2 separate regions of the Homo sapiens genome follow, and region 1 is linked to region 2. A link means that fine-mapping ties the variant in region 2 to the expression of a gene that starts in the linked region. Tissue or cell type: testis. Region 2 holds a variant in brackets; the other region holds the start of a gene. All regions are shown on one strand. Distances are between the middles of the regions.

Region 1 (2,684 bases), 59 kb before region 2:
CCAAGGGAAGCACGGCGGCGGGCGGGGAGAGTTTCGGTGATTTCTTCAGGGAAAAGTGCCACCTGCAGTTTTGGTGGGGGCAGAGAGTGAAAGGCCGTGGGGCCCGGGCACCTAATCTCTGTGCGCCCGCGTCAATGAGTCCATTGTCTGCGGCCGCGGAGAACTCTACCCTATCACCCTGGCCGCGAGTGACCACATCGATCAGGAGGGCAGGCTGGAGGGGGTTGCCTGGCCGCGGCGTGTTGACCCTTGGAGATAATCTGCCGAGTCGCCGAGGGTTGACTTGGCGACGCGGTTATGAGCGGACGGCAAGCTCCGCTCAGGACAAAGATCGGCCACTTTTCCCCTCCCCCTCCTTTTCCTCCCCCTTCCCCTCCTCCCTGGGCACCCCTACACCCACTCTGGACTCAGTCTGCGCCCCACTCTCCCTCCCCTGCTCCCTGCCTCGCCTGCCACCCCCGGAGTGTTTACTTTGCACTTCTCAACTAATTGCACATTTCTGTAAATTGGTCTCCATTTCGATGCTTCATTTGCTTCCATTTAATATTTTTGCTCGGCCCTGCAGAAAGAAAAGAGGCTCTCAGCAGAAAGCAAATCCGCCGGTTGCGGTCGCCGGCAAAAACCCGGGTACCCGCGGCTGTGGGGGAGGAGGAGGGGATCGCCGGGGGTATTCCATGGAGGCGCGTTCTCACTTTCACAATTAGCATTTTCTGCTGCCTGCGACCTATAGAAGGGACCCAGGGAGCAAAGGTCAAACAACCATTTATTATTGTTATTATTATTATTAGATGAAACAAAGTTATCTGGAATTTTATCACGTACAGCCGTATAAAAAACGCATCAAGCGGAACCCTCCGCTTAGTAAGGTCGTGTGTTGTACTTCCCCGTGGATCTAGCTCCTGGTATCGTAAAATCGCCGAGTCCATTACAGGCGAAATGCGTTTCCGCTCTGAATCCCCGCTGACGCCTGCGCCCCCTCCAAGCCGCCTCGCCCACAACAGGCCCGGCAGCGATACCGAGCCATTAGGCGAGCACCTTCCCGAGCCATTTAACAGCAGCTCTTATGGATAAATAAACAAAAAAGGCTGTAAACCAATTAAAGTGTGGACAGTGAAAAAGTCGTTTATTAGCTGGACGTCCTGATAGTCCTCGCTGATACTGGAGGTCCTTGCCGGCCCTCTTCCCCCTTTCCCTTCACAGAGACGCGGTTTACACCCGGGAGAACACAGGTTACCTTGTTCTTGGTAAGTGGCTAAGTCTTCCTCGGTGGTTTCAGAGGCATGCTAAGGGCTGAATTTGGCTTGGTGATAGGATTTTTAAGCCACTGCATCCCATTATAAATGAAAAAAACAGATGAATCCCACTTAACTCCAAGGTATACATCATGAATGCACGTGGAATTTATATTCATTTTATAATTAAATCTCTGTTGAAAATAAAAATTGTTTCTTGAGTTGGAAAATTCTGTAAAGCAAACGATGTGATGTGTGGAATGAGAATACTTCTATAATTGATTGCACTTTAGTTCATTAGCATTTCCTTCAATGAGCACTAATGCAGGCAGGTTTTCATTTTCCTAAGTCGAATCAATGTTTCCCTCCTGCTGGTTTATGAATACCCAGAATTGGCCGAGGGCGGTGGCTCACGCCTGTAATCCCAGCACTTTGGGAGGCTGAGACAGGCGGATCATGAGGTCAGGAGATCGAGACCATCCTGGCTAACATGATGAAACCCCGTCTCTACTAAACCTACAAAAAAATTTAGCCGGGCGTGGTGGCGGGCGCCTGTAGTTCCAGCTACTTGGGAGGCTGAGGAAGGAGAATGGCGTGAACCCAGGAGGCGGAGCTTGCAGTGATCCGAGATCGCGCCACTGCCCTCCAGCCTGGGAGACAGAGCGAGGCTCCGTCTCAAAAAATTAAAAATATATATATATATATAAATAAATACCCAGAATTTGGTATCCAGGTCTGAGAGGGGCCAGGGAAACCCAGCTTGGGTTGTGGGGATTGGAGAGAGGAAAGGACCTCAGACTTTGAATGAAGGGTTTTCCAATATTCCTAGGGCTAAGCAATCTAGTGAAAATAAGCAGAGAGCTGAAATTATTTTCCAGATGATTCAGTGATCCCTGAACTGTAAAGATAAAAGCAGCTTAAAAACCGAATTGAATTGGGTAATTGTCTTATTCCCTACCTTGTTAGCTCTCTCTGGTGTAAGAGGAGTAGAAGGGCAGGAGGGGGGACTCCGTGTGCCCCAGAACTGTCTGCTGCTTCCTCCAGCCACTGCTCAACGCTTCCTCCCTGGGAGTGGGGCCCCCAGGCACGAGCTCTTTCCACTTTTGGTTTAATCCTTCCGTGGTCCTCAGTTCACTCTGCTGATGAAAGGAAAAGTATGAAAGGACTTTCAGGCTCCAAAGGATCTGAGGTCAGCTGTTGCTCCCCACTCCTGGTGTTCCCGGTGGCTCACCCCCTACAGCTCTGGACTCACCCCTTTGGTTGTCTCATCTCTGGTTCTACCTTCCAGATGTGCAGTCTCCAGAAATCCCTGCTGCTTCCCTTCTGAGCTTAGTCCTAGGTAACCAGCTCCTTGCTTCCACACAGTTCCTTTTCTTTGCCTTCCACCTCCTCCTCCCACCACCATTTCCTATGACTAATCCTTTGTTCTCCTAGGAGCCTCTCCTTACCTCC
Region 2 (2,684 bases):
TCCTCCCACCTCAGCCTCCCAAAGTACTGGGATTACAGGTGGGAGCCAGTGCACCTGGCCAGTTTCTGTCCTTCTCATCTGAAAGATGAGTCTATCATCCATTCTGTGCCTTCAAATGCACCTTCTGAAATGATGACCCCAAATCTACATTTTCAATACCACAGCATCTCTTGAGAACTTGACACATCTTCAATTTCTTGCTGAAATCTCCATTTAACTATTTCTGGCATTTCTACCTCAACAACCCAAGGTTGAATGTATTTTCCTTCCCCCAAACCCTCTTCTTCCTGTAGTCTGTATTTTGGTGAATCCAGTCACCCAGCCTAGCAACACAGACTCATCCTTCACATCTGTCTGTCCGTCCCCTCCCTGCCTGCCCCTGTCAATCACTGAATCCTATTGATGTTATTTGACTTCTTAAAAACTTTAAACGTTTTTAGTGGATAGAGAATATATTCATATAGTTCAAATTCAAAAGGGCAAAGAATGGAAAATTTTTCTTTCTGCCTCTATTGGCTATCCATCTAGATCCCCATCCAGGAGGTGACCAATGTGATCAGTTTCTTGCATAGTGGATGCACTTACATTTCCTAACTAATTGCCAATGATGGACAAGGCCTATAGGTTTTGTTTTGTTTTGAGAAAGAGTCTTGCTCTGTCATTTGGGCTGGCATGCAGTGATGCGGTCTCAGCTCACCACAACTTTTGCCTCCCGGGCTCAAGCAGTCCTCCCACCTCAGCCTCCCAAGTAGCTGAGACTACAGGCAAAGCTAACTTTTTTCTACTTTTTACTACAAGCCCAGATAACTTTTTTCTTTTGTTTGTTTGTTTTTTTTTTTTTTCAGAGATGGGATCTTTCTATATTTTCCAGGCTAGTCTCAAACTCCTGGCCTCAAGTGATCCTCCCATTTTGGCCTTCCAAAGTGCTAGGATTACAGCACTTTGGAAGGCCTATGGGTTTTGCTCTGGTGGGCTGGGTGGTGCTGAATCTGCCTCTGGTAATGTAACTGCCCGTGATCATGCAAGTAGTAAGAGTCAGAGCCGAATCCAGGTCCATCCCAGGGCCATTGCCAGCCCTGAGGAAGAACCTGAGGGGTTAGCAGTCAGGTGAGGTGCAAAGAGCCCATGTCCTAACCCAGAGTGAGGGTCGTCCCCATCCTGGGTGGGGCTTAGGCC[C/T]TTCCAGGCAAAAATCACTTTGGAACGAGATTTACCTTGGACCCCTGGGTGTCTTCTGAAGGAGTGGAAGCCTGTTGGCCTTATCTGATGCTGAGAACTGAGTGAAATGCTGCAGTTTGAATTAGGGCCCGGGGCTATGTTTGAAATGTGTGTGAGTAGGTGGCTGGCTTTGAGCAACAGGCTTTGAAAAGGCTCCATCCCTCAATGTGTCTGGTCATACCAACCAGGTTTAAGCTGCCAGACTCCTGCTTTCCTGACAATGCCCGAAAACAGTCAGCCCGCACCAGCTGAGCCTTTTACTCAGGAGAAAGAGAGGGCCATTGCCTCTCTGTAGGACAGCCTGAGGCAACAGGTACACACAGCCGGGGTGGATGGCAGGGCAGTGCCTTCTCTGACCTGACCCTCCTCCCTGGCCAGCAGTTGTGGAACTCTGGTAGAGAGAAATAATCTCTCTTTACGTCCCTCTTTGCCTTTCATTCCCATTTTTCTCTTTCTCCTGGGTCTAGGGAAGAACGAGAAGGTGCACTAAAGCATGTTGTGTCCCTGCTGCAAAATCCACTTATCACTCAAACCAGTCCCCCATCAGATTAGTACAGGAGAGTACCGTGCATTCATCTCATTTCCTACTGTGCATCAGAACCCGGTGGGCATCCTCTCAGTCCTCTCTCTGGAAAACCAATGGCTGGATCCATTTTCTGGCCTGATTACTTGGAGCCAGTTATAGAAGCTGAGGCTCCTAGGACCCTAGCCATTGAGGAGGCTTCCAGCAGCAAAGCTCGGGAACCGATCACGAGCCAGACATCTGCCTGGGCACTGAGGAGTTGCAGGGAAGTAACAAGACACAGCCGGGGAATCTGCAGGCAGCAGGAGAGCAAGCAGCTGCTCCGTATGCTACCAGCGTGCTCCTACAGACAGGTGCAGCTGGTGGGGGAGCCAGCAGGCTGCTCAGCCAAGCCTGGGCCTCACCAGGGTGCTCCAATCAAAGCCAGGGAGGGTGTCTATGAGTTGGCAATGATACAGGATGGGGCCAGAGAAGAGCTGGGAAAGGAAGTGCTGGGAAGGGAAGGGCGTGGTCCTCTTAAATAATAATAAGGGGGAAGGGCGTGGTCCCTGGCAAGCTCCACCCCCCCCGCCCCCAGCCAGGCTCCTTCAACCGCACCCCCTAACCCCGCCAGCCTGTGACCATGGACCTAGGTGAGGACAGGCATTTTTTATTTTATTTTAGTTTTTGAGACGGAGTCTCACTCTGTCACCCAGACTGGAATGCAGTGGCACAATCTCAGCTCACTGCAACCTTCGTCCCCTGGGTTCAAGCGATTCTCCTGCCTTAGCCTCCCTAGTAGCTGGGATTACAGGCGCCTGCCACCGTGCCTGGCTAATTTTTGTATTTTTAGTAGAGACGGAGTTTCACCGTCTTGGCCAGGCTGGTCTTGAACTCCTGATCTCGTGATCCACCCACCTTGGCCTCCCAAAGTGCTGGGATTACAGGCGTGAGCCACCGCGCCTAG

Evidence for each region. PIP is the estimated chance that this variant, and not a neighbour inherited with it, causes the effect.
Region 1: PLUT starts here. The variant in region 2 is the best candidate, but not a certain one, in a credible set for the expression of PLUT in testis (GTEx, PIP 0.83).

What each region holds. Positions count from the first base shown.
Region 1 is chr13:27,915,710-27,918,393 of GRCh38, reverse strand. PLUT (PDX1 associated lncRNA, upregulator of transcription) reads left to right here and starts at 1,103. Exons shown (of 5, transcript NR_047484.2): 1 at 1,103-1,244.
Region 2 is chr13:27,856,958-27,859,641 of GRCh38, reverse strand. All of the region lies in intron 1 of PLUT (PDX1 associated lncRNA, upregulator of transcription), which reads left to right. Among named protein-coding and RNA genes, the nearest start is that of PLUT, 59 kb to the left of the region's middle. The variant C/T (reference allele first, on the strand shown) is at 1,177.